Regions from separate parts of the Homo sapiens genome. Here region 1 is linked to region 2. Evidence: fine-mapped expression QTL. A gene starts in region 2. The other region holds a variant in brackets. All regions are shown on one strand. Distances are from middle to middle.

Evidence for each region. PIP is the estimated chance that this variant, and not a neighbour inherited with it, causes the effect.
Region 1: its variant is fine-mapped to the expression of SLC25A48 in tibial nerve (GTEx, PIP above 0.99).

The regions. Positions count from the first base shown.
Region 1 is chr5:135,880,330-135,889,036 of GRCh38, forward strand. SLC25A48 (solute carrier family 25 member 48) reads left to right here. Exons shown (of 8, transcript NM_001349336.2): 8 at 7,703-8,308. Among named protein-coding and RNA genes, the nearest start is that of IL9, 11 kb to the right of the region's middle. The variant G/T (reference allele first, on the strand shown) is at 3,554.
Region 2 is chr5:135,831,101-135,839,807 of GRCh38, forward strand. It overlaps SLC25A48 (solute carrier family 25 member 48), which reads left to right and starts at 3,563. Exons shown (of 8, transcript NM_001349336.2): 1 at 3,563-3,793. The coding sequence starts at 3,748. RefSeq lists an enhancer at 2,528-3,029.

The DNA of each region.
Region 1 (8,707 bases), 49 kb after region 2:
CTGTTTCCAGACAGCTCGCCTCTCCGTTTCCCCTTCCAGCAGCTTCAACAGCCCTTTCAGAGAAGTACTTTTACCTTCACTGTGCAGATGCAAGTGACCCAGGCTCACAAGTGAGGACTGCAACCAGGGTACCTGCAGGGGGCACCGTCTCCCCACCTCCCTACTGAACTGCACAGCCTGACTCTGAGAGCCACCCACAGGCTGCCAGAGCCCTAGAGGACAGGTCTCTGCCACCATTCTTTGCCTCCCATACCCTCTTTTTCTTTCTCATTGCAGAAAGATCACTGTAGCCTGAGGACTCTTCTAAAGACAGCAGTCTGACTCCTGTGCTCACATGCCCTCCTTGGCTCCCCATTGCCCTCTAGATAAAGCCTTCACCCTGCTTCCGCCAGCCTCACTCCTCACCACTGTTCTGAATGTCCCGCCGTCTCTCTCACCCCTAGGTCTTTGCTCAGGCTGTCCCCTCTGCCTGACATCCTCTTCTCGCTCCTTTCCTACTTGTCCTTGGCTTCACCAGCTCTTTGCCATCCAGGCTGTAGAAGTCTCCTCCTCCAGGATGCCGGCTTGCTTTCTCAGCTAGGGTGAGTCGCGCCTTCTGCAGACCATCCCCCACCCCCACCCACACTGCATCCTAAATGCCAGAGGACACCCTCACTCCCCAGGTGGGGCTGCTGCGCTGTCCCTACCTTTGCACTAATGGTGCCTGGCACAGAGCCCAGCACACAAAGGGCCACTCAGCAGTGTCATCGGATGGGTGGATGACCAACCCCCATATGCCCTCAGGCCTCCTCTTCCTCCCTGTGTTTTTTCTTCCTCATTGTCTGGCCCCATACCGGCTACCTGCAAAGCTCAGAAGACAAAGTAAGTGTGGACTGAACTTTCTAGTCAACCAAGAAGCCATTTGACATCAGTCTTGGTTAGCACAAATTCTCCTGGGAAGGATGATCTTTGTCTATAAAACCTCACTGCTGCCTCCCCCGTGAGCTGGCAGGGGCATTCTCGGGACGGCAGAGCCCTGCCAGGGTGCACGGGTGGTGCCAGAACCTGGACAAAGGGAGGGGGCCTGACCAATCAGGCAGACTGTAGTCAGCCCAGGACAAGCCCCAGAAGCTGGCTTCAAATAAAATGCTCTCCACTTTTTGCTAAAGTGGCAACATTCACAGCTTCTCTGGCTATTTGCCCTTTCTTATAAAAGGAAAAGGGTAGCAACACAGTTTACATAATTAAACATCTTGAGTGAAGAATTACTGCATTTGGGTGGCATCCAGGATAGGGAAGGAATTCATCTTATTCTTAAAGCTGTGCTCAGATATTGGCCATTTCCCCCTTTTAACAGAGAAAAGTAATTTCTTAAAAATCCTATAACAAAAGCCAGGCATTTTTATTGTAGACAAAAATAGAAAATTTAAATAAACAGAAAGAACAAAATAATAAGACCTGTCATCACAAGACCTTGTTGTTATTCTTCCAAGTATGTCTTATGTGTATTTTCAAATTGGGATCCTATTCTACACAGTGTTTTACAGCCCTCTTTTCCCATTTAGTAGTTTGGGACCATTTTCCCATGTCATGAAATCTTCAGCTACAAGATGGTTTTAATGCCAAGACCTCCCAGATCCCAGAGTGGCTGGATGCCTGCCCAACCTGTCGTACCTGCCACTGTGACCACCCTGGTGATTAACTGCTTCAGGACAAAGGAGGAAATTTCTAGCTACCCAATCACGATTGTCCTGCATTTAGCCTTTCACAAGCAGTGACCAACCCAATTGGAAGCTTTTCTTTCTGGAAGCGCTCTTTCTTGCAAGGGGCATAGATGTCTGTCTCCCTTAGGAGGGAGGACTGCTAAGGCAGGGAGGAGGCTATTGCCTCCTGGTGGGAGAGGGAGGTTCCCAGCCACTGGTCTGCAGATTCATCTTAAACAAGTCTTGCCCATGGCATTCAACTTCCTGCTCTAACCCCCAAATACCAAGGCCTTTTAACAAGACTGGATTTTAATTTACCAAGTAGCTCTGAGATTTGGGGAAGCCCATGCTCAGGCAGCAGTCACACCTACTCTTTGAATGCCTCCCTCATTGTCTAGACCCAGGACAGAGTGAGATGATGTATATTAGAGATCTAGGGTGCCAAGCTGTCCCTAAGAAGTGGCGGGATGGGGACCATCTCGAGAGTTCCTGAGTACAGATGACAGGGATGACTTGAGAATTGTTTCTAAGAGCCTGCAGGGGATAGATCACCCAGCTCCCAGCAGTTGCCAGGTGCCTTCCAACAACCAGGCATGGAGATATCCCCCAGCTTTTCCAAGTTCCATGCGGGAAGATCAGTGACCTTTGGTGGTAGAAGTGGCATCCCGACCACTTACCAGTGGCTGGCTCTCAGACTTGTCTGTGGCTCATGAATCCAACTCTGCCATCCCTACCTGTCCAAGACCAGCCCCCAGAGCTCCCTGGAATAGTGCTGGTCTGCCCTCGGTCCTGACATGCATGCTGCAGGTCTCACTAGCCTACTTTCGGTTTCAGGAAAACTGATTTTCAAGGAAAGAAGACATAGTGCTCTTATGATACCTTTGCTGAACATTTTCAAATAGCCCCGGCAACCCTGAGAGCCTCTGCCAGTCTGTACTTTGCCTCTTACTGCTTCACAAACCCAGTCTCCAAATGGGTTGTTTGACCCCAAGATCCAAGATTTCAAGACTCCCGTTAGAAGATGTTCTTGTCTTTCCTCCTTTTTCCCAGGGTCTCATCCCATTAACAGGTCAATGCTAAAAGTGTCTGCAGAACCCATGATGTGAATTTACTGAAGAGAAAGACTCTCCACCAGGTGGGCTTTCAGCCAGGCAGGCTGTCCTCAGAACCTCTTCCTTCCTTCACAATTACAAGCATTCTCATCCCCACCCCGGCTGGGGCAGCGGAGCTTCTGCCTTGGAGGGATTCAACTGACCATTGGTCAACTGATCACCAACTATTCCAGCTTTGGACCTGCACCTGGTAACAAACAAACGAACAGAACAAAACAAAACTGGAGTAAAATAGACCCTCCCCCCATGGCCATTGTAAACTCACTGTGAATTCATGGAAGAGCTGGAGTTGGCTCTAAGTTTCAAAATAAAAGCATTAAAAACCTCTTCACATTGTTTCTCTGTCAGATGCCTCTGCCTAGCTTCCAAGAGGCACCTGGCCACTGTCATTCCTCTCTCTCTGTTCAGGCCTCTGTGGGTGTTGCAGGCCCAGAGGGAAAACCCCTCCACACAGGTGAGGAGAGAAACTGAGCCGGGGCAGCCTGGCTTCTTTTTTCCCAGATGCCTAAGGTCGGCAGCAGAGGGCGTAGTGGTTGAACAGGGTGATGAGGGACAGAAACCTTCTAGGGGTTCTCCCACCCTGAGCAGTGGCACACGTTGGTGACTTGCTTCAGAGAGTTTGGCCCTGGGCTTGGTTGGGGTGGGCACTCTCTGGGCCTTATTTTTACATGGAGAACAAAACAAAACAAAACACTTGATCCACAGTCTGGCTTCCAGAGTGACTTCATTGTTCTAAATTTTATTCCTTACTAGAGCCGC[G/T]TGGGGAGGCCATTGCTATTTTGCTGTTATGTGGCTTGTGTCCCTGCAGCCTCTTCCAATTCTGTGCCCACAACAAGCATTCCTAGTCAATCATAGAGCCCTTTCTTGATGAGCTGAGTGGCGCCTCAGAGTCTTTCTCAGCACAGTGCCGTGGCAGCCACCACCAGCCGTGCAGAACTGTCATACAAAATGAATCTATTTGCCATCCCTGGCTTAAATCCCAGTGAAGGAAATGTCCTCAAATTTGTTCTTTTTTCTTTCTCTTGAAAAGGTCTTCCTTGGTTTCTCCACTACGCTGTTCCCCAACCACCCCCTGCCTTTGAGTGATTTGGGCCATGTCTCTGAAAAATCTCTGTCTTAATAGACCGAAGACCAAAGCAATTCTATGGTGCAAAAGAGTTGAAAGTGTTCCGTCTCTTCGGTGTGAAACCTGTTACTGGAGCGGAGGGTTCCATGCTTGAAATAAAACCCTCAGCATGCCCTCCTCAATATTTCTCCTTCACAGCCCCTGGGACTGCAGGGTCCCCTGGGTATCTCTGCAAGTTACTGTTCAAGCTGCCCACCCTCCAGCAGTGGGACATTCATTCATTTGTTCAGTCATCAAACATTTGCTGAGCAGATGCTGACCTAGGTGGTGGGGACAGCCATGAGGGACTCCAGTGGCATGTCATTCTGGTGCATTGGAGAGGCTCTATTGATGGGAGAGACCAGCCTGCCTGTCTGCCCCAGTATCACTGGGTCTGGGTGGGCACGGAGGATGCGAGTGAAGAGATGCTTCTGGCACCTGGTTCATCCCTGGGTAGACCTGAAGTCTCTGCTCTAACACATCCTAGAATGTGTTTCTTAAGTCTGCCTCAACTGGACCATTTCCCGGTGCGAGGCATGCTTGCACAGTTTGTTTAGAAGTGGTGCTGTGTCCACAAGGCCAACTGGGGTCTTCTACTGGGTGCTCCTGATGAGGCTGAGATGCAACAACCACCTTCTTCAGGTGTCTGAGCTTTTCCTAGTTTCTATTAATCATCATGGCACCTCTTGATGGTAGAAGGAGGCATGCAGAGAGAAGCATTGCTGATCCAGTTCACAGATGAAGGAACTGAGGCTCCAACATACCTGAGCCCCAGCTCAGGACTTTACCACCAATCCCATTTGATAATCTTCCTGAGGCTACACTTCCCTGCTGTCCAGCCCAGGGTACATCGCCAGCAGCCATGATGATGGCTATTTTACGGTGTAAAAAAGACAAAGTTGTTGGGACACATAAGTATGGCGTCTGAAACTGCTATTGAAGGCCTCCCATCAACCACATCAGAACTGCCCTTCTGGACCCACCTCCCATTGCTCTGGTCCAGGTTCCCTGTGCTCTCATCATTTCCCCCATCCCATCCAGTGCCAGGCATACAATGGGCATTTAAATGTTGCTGAAAGGGTTCCCAAGTGATCCCACAAGCCTGCTGGGCCAGCTGCTGTGTGCCCAACACCCTCCAGGCTTCCCTGCCTCTATGCTTTTCTTTAACCTACAGGACACTCTTACCCCCAGCATCACCAGGAACAGGAATGCTCCCTGTTTTCGACCCAGCTCAGATGCTTTAAGCCCTTAGATGTTAGGGCTTCCTTGCTTCTCTCTCTCTCTCCCCTCCAGCAGCATCCATGGTCCTTCCACCAACGTGACCCCTCTGGCACTGTGTCCCTCCCTGTGCTACAGTCATGTCTGTGCACCCTCTCTTTCTCACTGGCCTGTGCCCCCCTTCAGAGCCAGGGCTGAGTCTTCCCAATCCTTAGATTCAGCATAGCAGCAAGAATGAACAGGGTTTAGAATAAAGGAAGCATAAATTAATGGGCAAAAATGCAAGCATGACCATGTTAATTGAGAATTGTTTGTAATAATGAAAATTCAGAAAGTTTCTAAATGCCTATCAATAGAAGAGGGGGTTGAACAAACAGCCACTAAAAAGAATGAGATAGATCTCACATATATTGTCATGGAAATATGTCAGCAACATTGTAAGTGCAGAAATGGAGGGGCAGAATAACATATATGATGTTATTCATTTTCATTTTAAAATATATATCGTATATGGGTAATTATATGGGCATTGAAAAACCCTTGAAGGATACACACCAAATTTAATAGTGGCTATTTCTGGGATGTGGGATTGGGAGAAGGCTTTCAGTTCCGAATTTGATGTTGGTGATTTCTTTGTACATCACTATAATGATGGTGATTTGATGATGGTGATTATTGTAATGTTTTAATTTTTTTACAGCACACATATATTGTTTTTATAATTTCTTAAAATAAAAGCACACCTTATTGCAGAGCTAGGGCTCCCTGCTGGATACTTGTTTTCCAGGCTGCGGGCTGGCTCTTCCTCGCTGCCCAGCCTCAGCCCAGCTCTGAGTAACAGCCCCTGCCACACCCCCTCCCCCCGCCCTCCTCCATGCTGGGCAGACAATGCCTCAGCACATCTTCTGCACCTTCACTCCCACTCAGGAGCACCTGGGCTGCAATGAATGAAACTCGGCTTTATTGAAGAAACTCAGCTCCAGCCCAAACAAATCTCATGAGGTAGCCAGATCTGGGAGGGGTCAGCCAGCAATGGATCTGCTTCCTCTTAGATTTTTCTGGAGAGGGCAATCTTGTGGAATAGTTGGGCCAACAGCTTGTGAGTCTTCCTCCATCAACACATTATGGTTCTATTTAACCAAATATATATATATATATATATATATATATATATATATATATATATATATAAAATATATATATGTGTGTGTGTGTGTGTGTGTGTGTGAGAGAGAGAGAGAGAGAGAGAGAGAGAGTGTGTGTGTGTGTGTGTAGTCTGACTGTGGCCAGTGCTGTTACAGGCATTGGGTGACAATGGCAGGGACCCTGCCCTCAGGGAGCTTAGTATCAGGCATTAATTTCTGTTGTCATGGTCAGGAAAGTCTTTAAACAAATGGAATCCTATTTTTAAGAAGGATGAAAACAAAACAGAATTCCAAGCCAAGCACCAGTTTTGGTGTCTGTGCCTTGGAGTTGGGGGGCTTCAGGGTTGGCCAATTTGCCTTACCAGGAAAGATGAAAAGAAGAACAAAAATCATTACCATACAGCAGCAGTCCTCAACAGCAGCCCCTTTCACTCCTGAAAATTATTAAGGACCTCGAAGAACAACTGCTTATATATTTACCAACAATTACTGGAAATTCAAACAGAATTTCAAAAATATTTATCCATTTAGGTATAATAATAAACCCATGACATTTTAACATAAATAACATTCTATGAAAATAACGATTCTTTCTAAACCAATATAATTAACGAGAAGACTTGCGTTTTCCGTTTTTGCGGCGAAGTCTGGCTTAAACAGAGGGCAATTGTGTTCCTCTGTCTGCTTTTGCTTTTAGTCTATGGGTTATCACTTGCATTATAGCCTTTGGGAAACTCCACCGTATGCTTGTGAGAACATAAGATTGAAAAGAGCAGATAACATCTTAGTGTTCTATGAAAGTGGTTTTGACCTCGTGGGTCCTCTTTGAGAACTGCTGCCCTACAGGGGAAAAAATACATATGTGTGTGTGTGTGTGTGTACATATACACACACACACATATATATGTGTGTATATACATATCCCTCGCCCAAAGGCTGATACCCTGCAGAACCACCACTTGGTGGCAGTAGAGGTCAACTAAACCCTCCGCAGGAATCCGCGTCTGGGAGTGCACGATCTTGGCCCTGTGGTGAGAACACCTGGGCCCCGTGACACTTCTTTTCCTGTTTCCTGGGTCTCACCATCTCCCTTGGCGTTGCCCTTTTCCTTCTCTGTGGTGGCAAGAACTTCACATTAGGGAGGCCTTCCCCTTGGGTTCCAGTTTCACGCAGGCCATCAGCCACCTGTGCTCTTGCAGGCAGCAGTGCCCCCTGTGCTCTTGCAGGCAGCAGTGCCCCCTGAGCCATCTGTAAAATGGCCACACTGGTCTCCCTTACCTACTTTGCACAGCTTCCACAAGAATCAAGTGCAAAAGTGTTTTTGTAAACTGTAAAGTGCAAAACATAGGGGTTAGAGGAAGGGGTGGCCTGGTGTGATTTTTCTGGTTTCTGTTCTTTGCCTGCCTTCTTCTCTGAGTCTGGGTTGTTTGCTGTTTCCAGGAGGTGAACACAGGATGACTACAGTGTTCCCTGGGCCTCATCTCTGCATGTGAAGCCCTGAGAGCTGCAGATGTTTGGCCTTTGGACCTCCAAGTGGACATCAATTAGCAAGCGTGGGCTAGGATGGTGCAGACACTGACGTGGCCCTTCTGATGCCTGGGATGCCTCATGAGTCACTGATTCAAGCCCTCCAAGGTTCTGATCCCCAATGCCCACTCTGCTAGGCTGGCATCAAAGAGCTTTCCAAGAAATGTTTGGTCCAGCTGAGAAGTCCTGACCATGAGCACCAGGGAGCCAGAAACCACCCAGAGAAACGTTGCTTCACTCCTCTGTCTGAGGATGGGGAGGGGCCAGTGAGCTCTGGGCTCAGCCACTCCCTCCAGTCTCAAGTAACACGTCCCCGTGCCTCCAGTCTCCTCTCAGCACCGACCAGGTTTTTCCCCGCTCCTGCACCCGTGGATCCTGAGGACAGCGGTAGCGCCTTCCTCACCGCACGCTGAGTCCAGTGCGTGCTCCTCACTGTGCACTTATTAGTGTCTGTTGAGTGATTAAATCACATCCTCAGGTCTGCAGCAAATAAATGAAAGTTTCTTTATTTTTTATTAACTAAATTGAGATTTTTTTCAAGCTGATGACAGAAAAAAATAATTTTGCCATTTCAGGGTAAAACTTCGAAATTCCAAGTTAAATGCCCAGTTCAAGATTTTTTCCTTCTCCACCTTCCCCTGGGGTTGACTTTAGATCTGGGAGGTTTGGGATTTAGGGAGAGGCTTCAGGGTCCTGGGAGGTGCTCTGTCCTACCCTGGTGTTCTTCCTGGCTAGTCCTGGGCATGGCTTTCCCTCCAGGGTGGCTTCTGTATAAGCATCTTCAGTCCCATTTGGTCCCTGTCCCGTGGTCCGAGCCTGACATATGTGCCCATCCCAAGGCCTCTCCAGCCTTACCATCCTCCAAGACACATCAGTGCCCCTCTCTGCCCTGTGTGAAAATCTTTGGTTTCTCCGTTG
Region 2 (8,707 bases):
GTGATCAGTGCAAAAGCTCTGTGGGGGAAATGTGGCTGGTACCTTTGAGGGCCTGAAAGAAGCCGGGCTTCTGTGATGCTCCAGGAAAGGCCAGGGGGAGTCCTCACACCTGGGAATGATGTGACCACCTCTTCAGCTCTGTCTTGTATCCAGACACCCTCCTTGTCTGCCAGCCACCAGCAGGACCTTCAGACTTTTCCCCATGTCTCCTCATTTAAGGCCCAGCGGACTAAGCAGTGACTGACTGCCCATCAGGCCTGCGCCAGGCTCTGCAGGTCCAGTGCAGAATGAGGCAGTACCCTCTTCTCAGTGGGCTCACAGTCTGGATGGGAAGACAATCAACCACTGAGTCTGACAGCAGAGATACAGATATGCTCAGAATATTCAGGAAACACAGATGAGATCTAGAAGATACCATGTGGCATAGGGTGATGAGGAAGGCCTTCAAGAAAGGCCTGTCAGGAGGTGACAGCTGAACTGAGTCTTAAAGAAGAAGGGGGCAGGGATTAGCCAGGGGAGGAGGGAGAGGGTGTTCCCCACAAGGGAATAGCATGTGCGCAGTCACACACATGCACAGAATGTGAGACATTGAGGTGCAAAGTGGAAAAGCAGCCAGACCCAGTCCTACTGAGCTACACACAACACACTGGGGAATTGGAATTTATGCTCAAGATCACAGAAAGTCATCAAAGTTCACTAAACTGAGCAGATTCAAAGTTTCAGAAGCTCACTGGGGCAGTAGGACAGGGGCAGAGGGACCCAGGAACCCGTGTCCACTGTGATCCAGGCAGGGCAGTGGCACAGGGCTGGGCTGAGCCACATTCGGAGACAGCAATGAGGGCTGGGTGTCATTGAGGGGATGGACACTCAGGACTTTGCGGCTGGTGGGATAAGACCTTGGGAGAGAGAAATGGAGGATGGCATCCAAGGTTCTGTTTTGGGTGGCCACTGGGTGGAGGTGTGTTTCTCTAAGTTGAAGAGGCACTGGCGGAGGAAGAGAGAGTTCATCGAGGGATGCGCTAAGATGACCCGAGCCACCCAGGTGGAGGTGTTGAGTAGAGGGATGTCTGGACTCTGAAGCAAGGTGTGGGGGTTATACGCTGAGAGATGGGAGGTACGGGTGGGTGAGGGTCCAGATGGGGCCCTGAGGAATTCACACCTAAGCATGAGAAGGGGCCATGGCACCAGGGAAGAAGATGAGAAGAGCTGGAGAAGCAGGAGGAAAGCTGGGTGAGGGCAGGAATCTGGAAGCAGAGGGGAGCAGGCGGCATGGGCAGCGCCTTCACTGCAGCAGGTCAGGCATGGACAGCTGACCCAGGCCTTTGCTGCCCGAGTGTGGCAGGTGGACATGGGGAGGGGATTGTTGGCTTGCCTGAGAGAGTGGTTGGGGAGGTGGGAGCTGTGGGGCTGTGTAGACTAAAGGTGCAGCCAGGAGACTCCAAGTTTGGAGAGCCTTCCCTGATTGCTTCCTGTAGAACGATGGACTCCCTCTCCAGTGCTCTTACAGCCACCTCTGTGTAGCATCTCAGATGGATTGTCTCCTCTCAAACAGAGACTTTCCCCAAAGCAAGGCACTAGCACAGACTGATGCTCAGGAAATTGCTGTGGCCTGAAAGGGTAAATAAGAAATGGGGAGTGGGCCACTAGTTAACAAATGCTATCAGCATAGCCCATCTGCATGTCCTGCTACTGAGGAAAGTGCTCTGAGAGGTCATCATTGGGGAAGGAACTGAGGGAGAAAGAAAATGGGGTTGCTTTCTGGCCCTAGTCATGCAGGGAGTGGATCTCTGTGGAGTTTCTTTCTCTCTGTAATGGCCAGTAGCTGCCCTGCCCTCTCCCGAGTGTAGAATGCAAATGTGAATGGCAGCACACTGCAAATGGTGCTCTGAAGTGCGAAGGCCAGGAAGAAGGGATGGCCTGGATCCTGGCCACAGAGCCAGCATTCTGCCTGGGCTCATAGCCCTGTGGTCTGGGATTCTCCAGGCCTGGCCATGGTTGCTGGTAAACCTAGGGTCCTCCCCTCACTTCCCTGGGTGATGCGCCCCATGGGCAGGTTTGTGGCATGCATATGGGAATGGAGCACAGTAATTCATTTTGGAAAGCAACCCACTCCTGCTCTGCTCCAGCTCGTTAGTAGTTCAAGCAGCAGCTTTCTGGGCCTGGGAGGCCATCCTGGGCTGCCAGGGACACTGCCTGCCAACGTAAGACCTCCTCAATTGGTGCTGACACAGGACTGAGGGGATGACAAACTGCCTGGCACCCCTTAGGTGGTCTTCCAGAGGAGTGGGTTTTGAGAATTGTCAGGCTTTCCACTTGTGGATGCATTCCAATGGTGAACTCAGTAAAAGGCCACTCTTCAGAGACCTGCATTTCTCATAGCAGCCCTAGGCATATATCCCGGGCATGACAGGGCACAGCTTGGGGTTGATGCTGATGGCAACTCTGAAGCCTCAAGACTGAGTGGGTCACCATAAGCAGCAGGAAGTTGAGGTGCCGGGATGGGGTGTGATGCTTCCACTCCTCCCTGGAACTTTGCAATACTTCCCTAGCCAGGCCGGCGACTCCATCCCGGGCTGTCCTCTCCCGATACAGGTCCACTCTCTGTGTGCCGGGGCAGGGGAGGGAGTGATGCTGCAGGAAGGTCCCTTCACCTCCAAGTCCCCACTCCTCAGTGGACAGGCCTTTGTAGGATCAAGCTTCGGTGGTCAGGCTCTGTCTTGCTTTGGAAGAAGGAGGTCTGGCTGGCTGTCGCTTCATATTAACCTGGATGACGTGACATGAATATGCCCAGTGGGACAAGAGCAGGCCCAGCAGAGGCCCCTTCCTCCTGACCATACCCTTCACCATTCTTGTCAACCTTGGGGTGTCTTGGCTGAGACCCACAGCTGAGTCCCTGCTGGAAACTAGCAGAACGCTGGGGGGCTTCGAGTCTTCTTAGGAAGGGAGGAAAGACACTCTCATTGTAATCAAAAGCCTCTCCGCACAGCAGGCCACTTCTCCAGTGAGCACGGACCCCTGGCCTGGGGCCTGGCTGAATGTAGGGTCTGCCTACAGAGAGGGAGTTTGAGGTACAGAGCACCACCTCTGCCTTCTGTTGGCCCAGGGCGGACAGTGTAGGGTGAGCCAGGGCCAGGCAGGGAGCTGGGCCCCTAGAGAGCTGTAGCTGAAAGTTAGACATGACCCTGAACCACCAGGTGCCTGCTCTAGGCACGGGGTACTGAGTGGGACATGGCTGAGATGAACAAAAAGGCATCACTGCCCAGAGTTGGGATGGGAGAGAGTCCACAGCTGATTGGAATCAGCATTGTCAGCACAGCACAGTACAGGGAGATACGCGCATTGCCGTCTCTGGATGGGCGGCTGGCACTTTCAGTTCAAAGGCGCTGAGGCTCTGAAGTTGGCAAGGAAGAGGATAACCCGGAGAAGGGAGGACTAAGAGAATTTCACTTGATGACCCTTGCCTCTTTGTGTCTGGGATGAGCCGCGCGGAGCGCACCCTTATCCACCCAGAGTGCTGTGCCTTTAAGGTCCACTGGGGGCGTGATGTCAGCCGCCCTCCGGCACTTGGAGAGGTGAGCGCGGCAGCCCGCGCAGCCGGTGACTGGGGGACTGGGTTTGGAGTAGGACCTGCGGCGTGCTCGAGACTCCGACTTCGGTCTTGCGGCGCGCTCGCGCCCGCGGGCCATGCCCCACTGACTCTAAGTGGGCACTGCCCCGGCTCCGGGAGGGCGAGACCGAGCGCCGGCCATGGGAAGCTTCCAGCTGGAAGACTTTGCGGCGGGCTGGATCGGAGGTGAGTGTGCTTACCGGGGACCCCCGGTCAGAGAGAGCGAGCCTGGCGGAGTTTGCCTCTATGCTCTGAGGAAACTTTGCCTCTGTGCGCTGCCATCCCGCTCCCCGTTGTGCGCGCAGCCTGCTTTGGGGAGTGCCCGGCCCCGAGATCCCCCTGGTGGTCTTGCAGTTGCCAGGGCTAAATTCTGAGAGCTTCACAGCGTTTCGGGCTGAGCTTCTGATTTGCTCATTAAGTTAGGATCCGTGGGACTTGATGAGGTAATGATTAAACAGCTCGTCAAAGCCCACAGCCAATGGAGGCTCCTGGCGGCGCACACACCCTTCAGTGACCTGGTGCACACCTGAATTGCGGACGTGGCTCGCGGGAACTTATGTATGAGGGTAGCGCTTGGCTGCTGATCCCGGGGCGCAGGGTGGTGGGAGCCAGGCTTCGAGATTAGGCCGGCCCAACGGGGCGTCCCGACTGGAGGGAGCAGAGCTCTCACAGCAGGGAGCGGAGCGCCGGCTGCAGGTGCCCATTGCCAGGCTGCGAGGAGCACTTATTGCCTTCAGCCGCCGCCAACCGTCAGCCATCGCCTACCTCCAAGGCCCCTTCTCCGGGCACTGTTGGGTCTGCTGATCCCTTCGCCACAGCTCCCGAAGCCACTCTTTTACTGGGCCTGGGATGGGTTGCCTGGGCGAGAGTTGCATTCATTTCCTTGCTTCTCCATTTTTCTTTCCAATTGGTCTATCCCTCTTTTCTCAGCTATTAGGAAAGGGGGAAGTTTGAGGGACTTTGCTAATTGTAAAAAAAAAAAAAAAAAAAAAAAAAAGTCTTTCTTTGGACCCATCTAAAAGGGTTATCCTAAAAGGGATGTTGGCAAATGTAGCCCCTCACCAAAGGGGTGAAAAAATAAGATGAAAAGAACAACAAACCAGATTGGATCCCAACTCCTCCCCTCCTACCTAGCAGGAGACCACCTCTCTCCCGAGACCGGTGGCTGCAGGGCCCTGCTTCACACCTTCCTGAGCAGAGGTGGCTCCTTTCACCTTGAGTAAGTCTGTTGGCACAGATGCCCTTGGGTGGGGCTGAGACCCGCCTCTCCTAACTTTCCCAGTTAGGGGGCTGCAGCCTGAGGCCCGCTGGGCATATCCAGGTCCTTTTTGACTGGACAATTATTCCACCATTCAGCGGGGCAGGCAGAGAGAGGAGACACTTCCGTGGGCTGCCCCTTAAATAAGCAGACCACCTTCGGTAGGGATGCAAATGGCTTGGTTTGAAAAATGCCCTGGAAGGTAGGGCTGAGTCAGAGTAGTTCCAAGACTCTGATACCCCTCCCCATCCCCAAACGTGATAACATGTGAACCCTCCCCGACTCACAGCAAGTAGGGGATTTTTGTGCTTTATTCTGGTCCTTACTTTGGTGATGTTATTGAAAGTAATGGCAAAAATCGCAATTACTTTTGCACCAAACTAATAACATGGCTTTTTTTTTTTTTGGCTTCCATGAAATGATGGTAAGTGTTTACTACACTTGAATACTTACTAGGTGCCAGGTATAGTTTAAGTGCTATATGTATTCTTTTAAAACAATTTTATCAAGGTTTATTTTATGTATTATAAAATTCACCCATTTCAAATGTACAATTCAATGTCTTTTAGTAATTTTACAAAGAGGTGCAACCATCACCATAAATTTGTTTTAGAACATTTTCATCCCCCAGTAAGATCCCTCATTTGAAGTTGAATGCTGTTCCCTCTCCTTAATCTCCTTTCTGTAAATTTGCCTTTCCTGTATATGTTATGTCAATTGAATCTTGCAATATGTGATCTCTTGTGTCAGTTTATGTATAGTTCTTTAATTATTATAACAACCCCAAAGAGGTAGGTACCGTTGCATCCTTATTTTACAGATGAGGAAACTGAGATACAGAGAAATTCACTGACTTGCCTAAGACCATGCATCTAGCATTGGCACCAGGATTCCAACCCAGGCTGCCTGGCACCAGAATCTGCCATCTTAATTTCATCTTAACTCTTTCTGAACAACCTTGCATAACAAAATTTTGCCCTTTTTTTGATATTATCCCCCCCCCCACCCCCCCCCCCCACACACACACACATTTTGTTTGAGATTTTACTGGTTTGTGAAGTGCCAAGGTCTGGAAATCACTGACCTTATAATCCCATTTTTTTAAATCTCAAATCCCCTGCTTTCAGATGGGTGGGCTAATAAGTGGCAGGGAGATGTTGGCCCAAGGCTGGATCTAAGCCTGCCCTGAGCTGAAGGATGTGTGCACTCACTATGGGGGAAGCCATGGAGCCTGAGGACCAGCGCACCTCCCCCCACTACTGGGAAGGGTTAATTACTGCCATCACCTCTCTGCCTCTGCCCAGTTTAGTAGGTAGGAGGGGATAAGAGGGGACAGGTGGTTCTGGACCCAGGGAATCATTGTTCTGGGATTAGCTGGTTTCTTTGTCCCTATAAATATCTAATATTCCAGGAGCCCTTAGCTACCTGGTTAAATCACCTCTACTAACACAGATATTTCCTTCCTCCTCAGTGTTCTCGGGAATTTGTCTTTGAAGAACAGTTTCCCTTTCAATTTCAGTCACTAACTGCTGCAACAAGGCTGATACGGTTTGGCTGTTTCCCCACCCAAATCTCATCTTGAATTGTAGCTCCCATAATTCCACATGTCATGGGAGGGACCCCTGTGGGAGGTAATTGAATCATGGGTACAGGCTTTCCCATGCTGTTCTCATGGTAGTGAATAAGTCTCATGAGATCCAATGGCTTTATAAAGGGGAGTTCCCTACACAAGCTCTCTTTTTCCCTGGCACCATGTAAGATGTGACTTTGCTCCTCTTTAACATTCTACCATTATTGTGTGGCCTCCCCAGCCATGTAGAACAGTGAGTCAATTAAATCTCTTTCATTTGTAAATTACCCAGTCTCAGTAATGTCTTTATTAGCAGAATAAGAATGGACTAATACAGTAAGTTGGTACCAGTAGAGTGGGATGTTACAGTAAAGATACCTGAAAATGTGGAAGCAACTTTGGAACTGGGTAACAGGCAGATGTTGGAACAGTTTGAAGGGCTCAGAAGAAGACAGAAAAATGTGGAAAAGTTTGGAGCTTCCTAGAGACTTGTTGAATGGTTTTGACCAAAATGCTGGTAGTGATATGGACAATGAAGTCCTGGTTGTGATGGTCTCAGATGGAGATGAGGAACTTGTTGGGAACTGGAATAAAGGTGACTCTTGCTATGTTTTAGCAAAGAGACTGGTGACATTTTGCCCCTGCCTTAGAGATCTGTGGAACTTTGAACTTGAGAGAGATGTTTTAGGGTATCTGGTGGAAGAAATTACTAAGCAGCAAAGCATTCAAGATGTGATTTTGGTGCTGCTAAAAGCATTCAGTTTTATGTATTCACAAAGATATGGTTTGGAATTGGAACTTATGTTTAAAAGCGAAGCAGATCATAAAAGCTTGGAAAATTTGCAGCCTAACAATGCAATAGAAAATAAAAACCCATTATCTGGGGAGAAATTCAAGCCTGCTGCAGAAATTTGCATAAGTAACAAGGAGATAAATGTTTATCACCAAGACAGTGGGGTAAATATCTGCAGGGCATGTCAGAGACCTTGGTGACAGCCCCTCCCATCACAGACTCAGAGGCCTAGGAGGAAAAAATGGTTTCCTGGGCTGGGCCCAGGGACCTCTGCTCTGTGCAGCCTAGGGACTTGGTGCTCTGTGTCCTAGCCACTTCAGCCATGGCTGAAAGGGGCCAAGGTACAGCTTGGGCTGTGGCTTCAGAGGGTGCAAGCCCCAAGCCTTGGCAGCTTACACATGGTGTTGAGCCTGTGGGTGGATAGAAGTCAAGAATTGAGCTTTGGGAACTGCCATCTAGATTTCAGAGGATGTATGAAAATGCCTGGATGTCCAGGCAGAAGTTTGCTGCAGTTGGCTGCAGGGGTGGGGCCCTCATGGAGAACCTCTGCTAGGGCAGTGTGGATGGGAAATGTAGGGTGGGAGTCCCACACAGAGTCCCCACTGGGGCAATGCCTAGTAGAGCTGTGAGAAGAGAGCCACCATCCTCCAGACCACAGAATGGTAGATCCACTTACAGCTTGCACCATGCACCTGGAAAAGCCACAGACACTCATTGCCAGCCTCATGGGTATTATAATTTTTTATAAAATTATTTTTTAAAAAAGAAACCCCATTTCCTTTCTCCCTCAGTTTCTTCCCTGATGGTGACCTCTCAGAGCACTTTCCTTTGCAGTGGGGCATGCAGATGAGCTATGTTGATAGCATTTGCTAACTCCTGGGAGACACTCATGCCAGCAGCTGGGAGGAAGGCTGTACTCTGCAAAATCACAGGATGGAGCTGCCCAAGACCATGAGAACCCACCTCTTGCATTAGTGTGACCTGGATATGAAACATGGAACAAAGGAGATCATTTCAGAGCTTTAAGATTTGGTTGCCCCACTGGATTTCAGACTTGCATGGAGCCTGTAGCCCCTTTGTTTTGGCCAATTTTTCCCTTTTGGAACAGGTGTATTTACCCAATGCTCGTACCCCCATTGTTTCTAGGAAGTAACTAACTTGCTTTTGATTTTACAGGCTTATAAGTGGAAGGGACTTGCCTTGTCTCAGATGAGACTTTGGACTGTGGACTTTTGAGTTAATGCTGAAATGAGTTAAGACTTTGGGGCGCCGTTGGGAAGGCATGATTTGTTTTGAAATGTGAGGACATGAGATTTGGGAGGGGCCAGGAGTGGAATGATATAGTTTGGCTGTGTCCTCACCCAAATCTCGTCTTGAATTATAGCTCCCATAATATGTCATGGGAGAGACCCATGTGTCATGGGAAAGACCCAGTGGGAGGTAATTGAATCATGGGGGCGAGTTTTCCTGTGCTGTTCT